Regions from separate parts of the Homo sapiens genome. Here region 2 is linked to region 1. Evidence: fine-mapped expression QTL. A gene starts in region 1. The other region holds a variant in brackets. All regions are shown on one strand. Distances are between the middles of the regions.

Region 1 (5,374 bases):
AAAACGGTGCACCCACACAGAGTAAGGAGTCAAGGGGCCCCAGACAACCCATCACTGCCTCACCTTCTTCCTGGGCAGCGGCCTGTCACTCAGCAGGCTGTGGCACCCCACTCCAAACTCCTACAGGTTAACCATTCATTCAGCAAAATCTTCATCAAGCAACTGTTATGTATCAGGCAACTTTAGATGCTAGAGATTCTCTGGTGAACAAAAAGAGACATGGTCCCTACTCCCATGGAGCTTACAGTCTAGTGAGGGAAGGGTGGAGGAGGGAATTATCACTCATGCCAGTACACAGACAATTGCAAACTGTGATAAACTACCCAAAGCAAAGGAACCACAGAAGATTCTGGCACTATATGGAAGGTGGGGCCTTCTAGGTGGCAGATGTAAAGACTGGGGCCCAGAGGGAAAGCAGCAGGGGCTGTGGAGAGGAACAGAGGGACCTGCAGGAAGCTGTCATAGGATGCCTTCCTTGGAGGCCAAGGACTGGGGCCTTTTTCCTAATTGCAACAACGGGACATTGGATGTGCATTTTACAAATCGCTCCCTGGCTGCTGTGTGCCTGGAGAATGGATTTCAGCAGGGCAGAAAGGATGCCGAAAAACCAGTCACTGAGGTCCTGGTGAGAGATGATGGTCATATAGAAGCCAGGCTCAAGGGAAGCATCCCTGCACCCCTCTTTCTGTCTCTGATGAAGTACCTATGTGATTTTTAAAAATCGGGGGCTGCTGGGGGGCTACTGACAGAGGAGACATCTTCATCCATCTCTCTGTGAGATGCCTTCCTGAGCCTTGCGCCCAGAGAATCCCACTTGTTCCTCCACTTCAGCACATATGAAAAATCTCAGCTCTGTTTCCCAACCTGCACGAGCACATTTATCCAAGTCAAAAATCATCTGCGATCCTTCTGCCCACTCTCCCAGCCCCTGCCCAGGCGGCTGGCCCCTCCTGGGGTTTCTCACAACCCTCCCTGCCTTTATTCCTGAAGTGCTTGAACATTGCCTGCAGTTACACTCCATTTAGACATTATTTTGATGATAAAATTATGTCTTCCCCCCTACTGCTCATTGTCTTCTGCAGAATATAGGAGAATAAGGTGGTGGTGTCTCCTGAGGGCTTTTCCCCCCTTTTAAATAATTCTATACCTACCCCCCTCCCCACACTCATTTGAATCATCAAATTGATTATTATCCCTGTGGCTGGTGCATCTCAAAAGATGAAAAACCCAGAAGCAGGGCTGGGGCATGACTTACAGCTCATTTTGGTACAGTGGCATCCCATAATATTCGGGTTCACTGAGGGAGCAGCGGACGGGGATGCAGGTGCGTTTGTAGCTGGGGATTCAGGTGTGTATTTCAAAGTGTGTACTTGTGCCTTGGAGTGGATGTGGCGGGTAAGTTGATCATTTTCACCACGATTGTATTTTCCTAAGCAGACAGGAATTTATTTGCTCATGTCTGTGTCCTGGGTACATTTCAGAGAGCTGCCAATGACTAGAGCATCACTTCATACATTGAGAGAACGTTTTATAGATGCGCACCCTGCATCTAGCCATATGAGAGTGGTGCAGAACTGACTGGCCCAGGTGATGAGAACTGGGAAGGGAATCTGTTTCTCTCCTGCCTTCTTGCTGTGCCTCACCTGCTGGCCTGACCCTTTGCACTTTTGCGCACACAGCGCAGGGTTTGAGGCTGCCTCTTCTCTTTGGTGCGTGGGTGGAGAAATGTGACTCATTTTTAATTTGGAAAACAGATCCATTCCAGAAAGGCTGAGAGGTGAGTTTGCTAGACCTGCCAGTTAAAAGATGGGATAGGGGTGGCCCGGGGGGTATGTAAGCAATAAATCTCCCCCCACCCCAGACCCACCTGGCGGTTGGACATTCCCCCCCACCCCCCTTTAACTGCGAGAAGGCAGGCCTTAGGGCTCTAACACCCAGTACTCCTACTGCTCAGGAGGTGGGGACCTCGCGCGCTGAGCGTCTCATTCCATGAAGTCTCTCTGTCTCACCCCCTCCCCCCACCCCAGCTTGATTCTGTCACTTTAAGTCCAGCCCCTGAGAGATAGCCAATAGGAGCCAAACTATACATCAGTCTCCCAGCCTTAAAGCTACAGTAGGGTTAGTGGGCTCCAAGTCTCTTGTGCCCCAGCCTCCTCCACGGCTTCGCATCCCCTCTGCCCGCTCTCTCCGGAGCGTGCGGATGAGTGGAGAGCTGGGCTGTGCGCGCACGGCTCTCTGCCTCCCTCTCCCCCGCCGCGGCCGCCTCCTCCCACTCTGCGTTCTCGCGCTCACTGTGCCCTGCCCGGGCTCGCACCTTGCCCGTGCCCTTCACTCGCTCTTCCGCGTGATTTCCCCGCCGTCTTTCTCTACCAACTGGGAATGCTAAAACGGGACTGATGGACGTGTCCGAACTCTGCATCCCGGACCCCCTCGGCTACCACAACCAGTAGGTGCCCTGCTTCTCGGTCTGTCTGTCCTTCTGCCCGTCTGGCAGTCTCTGTCCTGGGGATCGCAGTTCCTTTTCTGCACATTCTTGTGTAAAAGTGGAAGGGACTTCGGGGGGGCACTTGGGGGACGAAGGAGGGGAAAAGCCGCACACTTCTGGGTTTCTTTCTAGGGCATAAACCCTCCTCTAACTTTTTCCCGCACCCCCTTTTACAAATCCACACTTTCAGGCAAGAGTGGCGCTTTCTCATGCACTTTCTCCCTTTCTCTCTCCTCTCTGATCTTGCTCCGGGGTGAGAAAATATTTGAGTTTTTGTGGAATGGAGCAAGAAGGGAGGCAGAAGCCCAGAACAGGTGCAGGGATGTGGTTGCAAGGATGTCCTGTCCCGTCAGAGAAAGCCTTTCCCGCGGGCGCTTTGTTTTATTATTTCCATCCTGGGGACCAAAAATGATCCCGGCAAGAGAGAGAAAATCGAACGTGCCGCGGCGGTTTGGAAACTGCAGGCGGCCAGTGCCGCTCTCGCCTCGCGGTCTCCGTGGGGCGCCCCGAGGGTGCGCACGTGGCGCGGCGGATCCAGGGCGCCCGGGGGATGCGGGCCCAGCGCTGCGTCGTAGGCAAAGTTCGTTCTCGGCTTTGGGGGAGGCTGTGACCAGCGGAACAGAAGGGCACCATTTCCCTGCTCCGAGGCGGCTTTGCGCTCGCGGTGCCAGAACCTGGGGTTATCCGAGCGGCGTGGGCGCGGGCGGCAGCCGGCGCCGCGAGAAGCGACTCTCAGAAACCGCGGGTCTCCAGCCCCGGGGCAGCGCGCCAAGAGCGCAGAGTGGGAAAGTGAACTGATCGCCTAAGCAGCGGGTGGTCAACCCGCGTGTCATGTCCGGGCTCTCGGGGATCCCACTCTATCCACCTACGGTTTCCCTCCCGACACCCTCCACGGTCGCCGCTCCACCTGCTCGGGTACCTGCCCGGGTCTCCCCTTGGGCGCTGCGCACCCCACGGCGCCCCCGGCGGGTGTCCCGGAGGCAGGTTGTGTGCGCGTGCAAAGTGGTCCCTCGGAAGGCTTAATAATAATAATACATAAAACTCTAGGTTCTTACGGACAGCTTTCCTGCTTAACTTTGTGCTCGTCTTCCTCTTTTTTTTCTGACGCAAACTAAATTCTCCAAGTCAGCGTTTCTCCAGTTCCACCGTGCTTTCATTTGTGTACCACTCGCTCTCCCCCTCCCCCCAAGAACCACGACTACATCTCTAAAATAAATACTCTGGATCATGTGGGGTCCCAGGAAGTACCTAACCCCTCTCCTGGCTGCATGGAGCACCTCCACCACGGTGCACCCCGCTTGAGAGAGAGGGCAGCTGTCCACAGCATGGCTTGTGTTGTTGACCAGACTGTTCCTGCTTCTAGTTTGGGGATTTTCCCCACTCCACCCTGGGGCAGAGGGCCTTTTAGATGCCACCAGAATGTCGGCAGAAGGCGCTGGTCTGGGAGAGGAATCCTTAATAATAATGGATTCCGATTTCCATCAGCTTGAAAAGTGGCTTTCATTCCTTTTAAAGGTTAGATTCTAGCTGGGGTGGGGATGGGGTGGGAGCACCTGAGGTTAGTGAGGCTGTGGACAGTATTTGGTGCTTGTGGAGCATTTCCTTACATAAAATGATCAAGTATGACAAATATTGGATATTTAAATTATTAAGGCTCCCTCTCTCCAGAGGTGACTTCTTTAGTTGAGCACGAAATACTTATGTATTTGTCCCTGGCTCAAGTCATAGTCAATAAATATGAAAATTCGTATGAAGGAAGTACATTCTTTGATTATGCTTACCAGGAAAGCAAGGAGTGAGATGGAGGCTTTAACAGCTGGGTAATTCATCGAGTTGACGGCAGCCCTGACTGGAGTTTGAGGAGAAATATGGGCAAAAAGGCAATGTCAGGGAAGCAGCAGAAGGAAGTCAGGGAGCTGAGGTCCTGGGGGTCTGGGAAAGGTTTGAGATAGAAATCATTTATAAACTAAGCCTGACAGAGGTTTAGATCCCCAACCCTTTCCGGTTTTTTTTTGCAAAGAATTAGCTTGTCCCTCCATGGGGCACAGGAAAAGCCAAAAATATACCTGCTGTCTCCACCGAGGAATTGAGCACCCCTGTCAGATGTCATTTCTCAAAGCCCAGGACCCACTGGGCAGCAGCCCAGGCATTGATGAGCTGGCCTCTTATACATATATGTGCCGCCTAGGGAGGGTCTGCATGTGCTGTGGCGCAGAGGGGCATCATTTCAAGGACGAGCTTGTGGAGGTCTGGGGCTGGTGTCTGGGGAGACATCTTTCTGACCTCTACCCCATGGCTTTGTGACACAGCTTTAGAGCCATGGGTAGTAAAGTAACAGAGCAGGGGACTGGATTCTTTGGTTTGGTAGAAGGATAGTAGGACAAAGCCATTCATTATAGTGCCGGCATTTCCCAGGGAACATACAGTAAGTGGGTTCGTGTATGCTCTGCTCACTGTTTTGACCCCTGTGGATTGGCTGACATTCCCAGACTTGAGAAAACCCAAGGGCACAGGGACTAGAGTTGAGGGAGGAGGAACTCTCTGGTCCTCCCTTTTGCTTCTAACACATAGAGAGCATTTGTTAATGCTGTAGAATCATTCTCACTTTCCCAGGTGAGAAATGAACACACACAGAGAGAAACATACGTACCTTCCTACCTTGCTCTCCTTCATTTTCATTTTCCTGTAGCCAATCCTGTAGGTGACTCCATTACCCATTCTAATCAATATTTTATGTACATATATAATCACCCAGAGTGGGAGGCAGCGTGCTCGCCTGTGTGTGCCTGTGTACAAATGGGTCCATGACTGGACCAGCTGGAGACCCACGGCAAACAGTCCAGAGAGCAAGGGGGGCTATCTTCCCCACCGTCCGATGACCACTTTGCT
Region 2 (5,374 bases), 100 kb before region 1:
CCAGAGCAGAGAACAGAGGCACTGAAATATTTTCTGCAGCAGCAAAGCAGGAGGGACTTAGGTTAATGGGTGCGTGCTAGGATCTCCAAACCAGTGGCAAAACCCGTGTTGTCTATTGCATCTGCCACCATGGGTGGGTAGGCATGGAGGGGGGACTGGGTGGGGGAGGATCCTGGGAAAGGGTGCCTTCTCATGGAGGAACCTCAGCCCTCAAGGAATTGAAATAAGAGAGAGACAAAGAAATGAGCTCCTACTCTTGTCACTCAGATGTCGCTCTAAAGCATCTTTACTCTGGATTTATGTTCCTCGGTGCCTGTATAACCCTGCAAGGCCACGGCATTACAGAAAATCGCCAGCAGTTTCAGAAACACCAGTGTGAGTCCAGTTACTGCTTCTCTCTGATCTTTAGTATATGTGCTGCTGAAGTGAGCCCATCTCTGATCTTTAAAATGATCTCAGATCTCTAATATGAAGGGGGGTCTCAATGCCTAGACCTGCCCACCATCACCCCTCACTGGCTGGGAAAGGCTGGGGTGTGCAGAATACAGGTGACCTGCCCCTGGGAGGTCCATGCTCCATGGTCCAGATGGGGCTGAGGATGCTTCACCCCAGGGCAATGTTAGCAGAGTGGCAGCCCATGCTTTGGCTTAGTATGGCATTCTGCATCAATGCATGTGCACGCACATGCTCACATGTGTGCACACTCTTACAGGGAAGTTAATAGAGATCTACAGCCCTCGTTACCATTTGCTTTCATAAATAAATATATTAAATTGGGAAGCCAGATTTATTTCTGGCAACAGCTTGCAGGCGACACCTCCCCCTCTTATTCACAGTTCCTGAAGCGAGCCCAGCCTCTCCCACCCCACCCCCAGGCGTGACTTTCTCTCTTAAAATTCTATTTTTAATTTGTTGTGATGAATGAGTGACACCTCTGACAGCCGATTCGCGGAGATTAATAGAAACGACACAATATTTACGTCGGCGCTACGAACAATTATCCTGCCATCTATCTCTGAGATTATCTTCCTGATTGAAAACTACTCATCCGTGTAATCGGAATTATTTGGAATTAGAAGGGAATTTATAGCCCCCCTAGAGCACGCTCTCTCCCCTCGAGTCTACACCTCGGTCTCCATCTTTCTCTTGTCTCTCCTCTGGGCCTCTGGCTTTCTCTTCCATCCTGGTGATGGGCAGAGAAAAATCTTTTTCTCCTGGAGGGGGCCACTGGTCACTCAGGACAGTGGGCATCTCTTTAGGGTGGCCTGGGACTCCATGATATGGATCTAGAAGTAGTGGTTTGTGGGAAGGAGGATCTTCGTGGTGTCATAAGAATTAGGGGTCAGCGAGGCCAGCTCCTGAGCTCAAGATAGATGAATATGATCTGAAGAAAAGGGTTTAATACAAAGGTGGAGAAGAAAGGTGACTTTGGAAAGCACTTGGTGTCAGACGGTGACAACTGTAAGAAATCTAAAGGAGCAGGATGGGATTGCAATGATGGTGTTAAGGTTGCTCTATTTCTGTTATGACTGTCTTAGTTGGCTCAGGCTGCCATAACAAATACTATAGACTAGGGGGCTTAAATACATTTCTCTACAGTGCTGGAGGCTGGGAGTCGGAGATCAGAGTGCTAACTTCGTTGGATTCTGGGGAGGGCCTCCTCCTCCTGGCTTGCACATGGCTGCTCTCTCATGTCCTCACCTGGGAGAGAGAAAGAGAGAGAGAGACAGACAGACAGACACACAGAGAGAGACAGAGAGACATACAGAGACATACAGAGAGAGAGGCAGAGGGAGAGAGGGGTAGAGAGAGGGACAGAAAGAGAGAGACAGAGAGAGAGAGGAAGAGAGAGGAAGAGAGAGAGTTAGAGACACATACACAGAGAGAGAGGGAGTGAGACAGAGAGAAAGAGAGAGAGTCAGAGACACATAGAGAGGGAGAGAGAGGGAGTGAAACAGAGAGAGAGAAAGAGAGAGGGAGAGAGACAGACAGAGAGAAATAGAGACAGAGAGACACAGAGAGACAGAGACACAGAGAGACATATAGAGAGACATACAGAGAGACAGAGAGACACACAGAAAGAGGCAGAGAGAGGGGGGAGGGGAGAGAGAGAGAGGGACAGAGAGAGGAAGAGAGAGAGAGACAGAGAAAGAGATAGGGAGTGAGACAGAGAGAAAGAGAGAGAGAGGGAGAGAGAGATAGAGAGAGGGAGTGGACAGAGAGAGAAACAGAAAGGCAGAGAGAGAGGGAGAGAGAGATAAGGGAGGGAAAGAGACAGAGAGAGTAAGAGAAAGAGACAGACAGAGAGGGAGACAGAGAGAGAGGGAGTGAGACAGAGAGGAAGAGAGAGAGAAGGGACACACACCCACACACATGCACACACAGAGAGAGTGTGCTCTTGTATCTCTTCTTCTAAGGGCACTAATCCCATCAGGAAGGCTCTACCCTCATGAAGACACCATCTCCAAATATCATCCTTCTGGGGCTTAGGGTTCCAACACAAGAATTCTGGGGGGATAAACATGTAGTCTATCGCAGACATAATGATGCAAAGAGCTGGAGAGGGTGAGTCAGGCAGGCTAGAGGCTGGACCCCATCAAGGCTCACATTTGGGTTGTAAGGATGGGGAGGCGAGGCTGAGAAACAGCATGTGCAGCTCTGGAGAAGCCCGAGAGCCTGTTTCTCACATTGGGGAGGCTGGAGAGTGGGGGTCAGAGTAAGAATGAATGGAGACACTAGGAGTGCATGCTCTGTTTTCGGTTCTCTGCCTGGTCCCTGCCTGTTAGCCTGGTGGATTCAAGGTTGGGCCCTGAGTCAGACAGACTTCA[A/G]TTGACTCCCTGTTCTGCTACTCCAAAGCTGTGTGACCCCAGGCAAGTTTCTTAACCTCTCTGAGCTTCCATTTTTTTTGTCAGTAAATTACAATTTATAATCCTCCTTGTTGGAGTGTGCACTATCTGTATATTGAGGGTAGCAATAGTACCTACTTTACAAGGATGTGTGTAGATTAAATGAGATCATGCAAGTAGGGTACTTTGTGCAGTTTCCACTACATAGGAGGGACTCAATATATGTAGATGCTACAGATGAGATCAACCTAAACCCTGGGCCTCTTTAGGAGACAAAGACCTGGGCTCCTGGAACAGCCCTGGCCTGCCAGGTTCCTTTCCCCACCTTTCGCATCACACATCCTGATGACCTGTCTGCCTGCATCTCCTCCTGCTTCCAGCCCCACTTCCCCCTCTCTCTTTGTGGTACTGGAATATTTTCTGCAGTAGCAAACCAGGCTGGGACTTAGTTTAGTGGGTGCATGCCAGGATCTCAAATCACCTTTGTTATTTCTCCCCTCCTGTAAATACTTGTAATTGCAAAGATGTATTGAACATGCACTCTTCCCTGGCATGTTTCCAAGTTCTTTACTGGAATTCATGTATTTAACCCACACACTATCCCTGGAGGCTAATTGCTATTAATTATTAACATTCCCATTTTACAGATGGGGAAACTGAGGCACTGGGAGGTGAGATAACTTGCCAAAGTCACATGACTGGTGTGGTCAGCAGCCTCTAAGCTGCCCTTAAGGTTCTTGCCTCTGGTATTCACATCCACATGCAGTTCCCGCTCCCTGTGTGTGGGCTGTGCCTAGTGACTTGCTTCTAATGGATAGAATAGATCAAAGTGCGGCATGTCACTTCTGAGATTAGGGCAAAAGCCCGTGACATTTGTCTTGCTCATACTCTCTCTCCCTAGCTCCTTTAGATTGTTTGCTCTGGTGAAGGGACCTACCATGTCAGTTGTCCTCTGGAGAGGCCTCAAGGAACTGAGGACAGCCTCCCATCAGCAGCCCATGAGGAACTGAATCCTGCCACCAACCATGTGAGTGAGTTTGGAAGTCTGAGATGACTGCAACCCTGGGCCATACATTGGCTGTAGCCTTGTGAGAGATGCTAAACCAGAGGACCCAGCTCAGCTAGTCCCAGATTCCCGGAGCCACAGAAACTGTGGCTCCTAAAGGGGCCCAGGGTTTAGGTTGATCTCATCTGTAGCATCTCTGTATATTGAGTCCCTCCTATGTAGTGGAAACTGCACAAAGTACCCTACTTGCATGATCTCACTTAATCCACATACATCCTTGTAAAGTAGGTACTATTGCTACCCTCAATATACAGATTGTGCACACTCCAACAAGGAGTCTTGTCTTAAGCTGCTGGGTTTGGGATAATTTCTTATGCAGCAATAGATAACCAGTGCAACAAGTAATAGCCCAGCCAGGATTTAGACCTAGGCAGTTGGACTCCAGTGCCTGTGCTCTTGGCCATGTTGCTATATGGTGGATGGGGAGGCCTTTGGGATTGAACCACTCAGGTTCCCAAGTCATATTTGAAAGAGACAAGTGAGCTTGCATGGCTTTTTCAGACAGATTTAGGATGAGATTAAAGAAAGTAGTGTCTTGGTCAAGAGAATTTTTGTTGTTGTTATTTGTTTTTTTTTTTTTTTTTTTTTTTTTTTTGAGGTGGAGTCTCGCTCTGTCGCCCAGGCTGGAGTACAGTGGTGCGATCTCGGCTCACTGCAACCTCTGCCTCCCGGATTCAAGCGGTTCTTCTGCCTCAGCCTCCCAAGTAGCTGGGATTATAGGTGCCCGCCACCACACCTGGCTAATTTATTTATTTAAGTAGAGATGAGGTTTCACCATGTTGGCCAGGCTGGTCTCAAACTCCTAACCTCCAGTGATCCAAGTGATCCACCCGCCTTGGCCTCCCAAAGTGCTGAGATTACAGGCCTTGGTCAATAGAGATTAGTAAATACCATTTGGAAAATGTCACTTCTCCTTTGGGATTAACTTAGCCCTGTCCAAGAGAAACATGAGTATGTTCTTTGGGTCTAGAGGAGCTTTATTCTTTAGGTGGCTGGTAGGTGGAGAGAGAGCTCTTCTTTCATAAGAAATGTGGTGTCATCAGGGGAGTCTTGGGCCCAGAATAGATAACAGTAATCCCCAGTAGTGTTCTCAAGAAATGCTTCCAAGTCAAGGTAGCCCCACGTGGTATATAACATGGCCCTTCCTCAGTGGCTGGAAGGACTTTGCTTCCAACAGGATCATAATCTTCGTGCTACCTCACTAACATTGGAAACAAATGGAGCCAATCTGGATTTATTCATGTGCTCTGTAAACAGTGGAATTCTGCTATGGCTCTGAGGAAATGGGGACATCATAAATTTGTCATTAGGACATTATTCCTTCTTTTTAATAAATAACTTTCTTTAGTTTTGCAAGAATTGGCCAACTCTCTCAGAGGAAGGCTATGGAACCCTTAGAATTTAGTGGAGTCCAGGGACCATCCTTGAATAATGAGGGAAATCAACATTAAGGCCAACGTAG

Evidence for each region. PIP is the estimated chance that this variant, and not a neighbour inherited with it, causes the effect. A credible set is the group of variants that fine-mapping cannot tell apart.
Region 2: its variant is the best candidate, but not a certain one, in a credible set for the expression of ESRRB in nasal epithelium (TOPMed, PIP 0.89).

Annotation. Positions count from the first base shown.
Region 1 is chr14:76,374,006-76,379,379 of GRCh38, forward strand. It overlaps ESRRB (estrogen related receptor beta), which reads left to right and starts at 2,132. Exons shown (of 7, transcript NM_001379180.1): 1 at 2,132-2,446. The coding sequence starts at 2,397.
Region 2 is chr14:76,270,703-76,276,076 of GRCh38, forward strand. All of the region lies in intron 2 of LOC105370575 (a long non-coding RNA gene), which reads right to left. Among named protein-coding and RNA genes, the nearest start is that of ESRRB, 100 kb to the right of the region's middle. The variant A/G (reference allele first, on the strand shown) is at 2,829.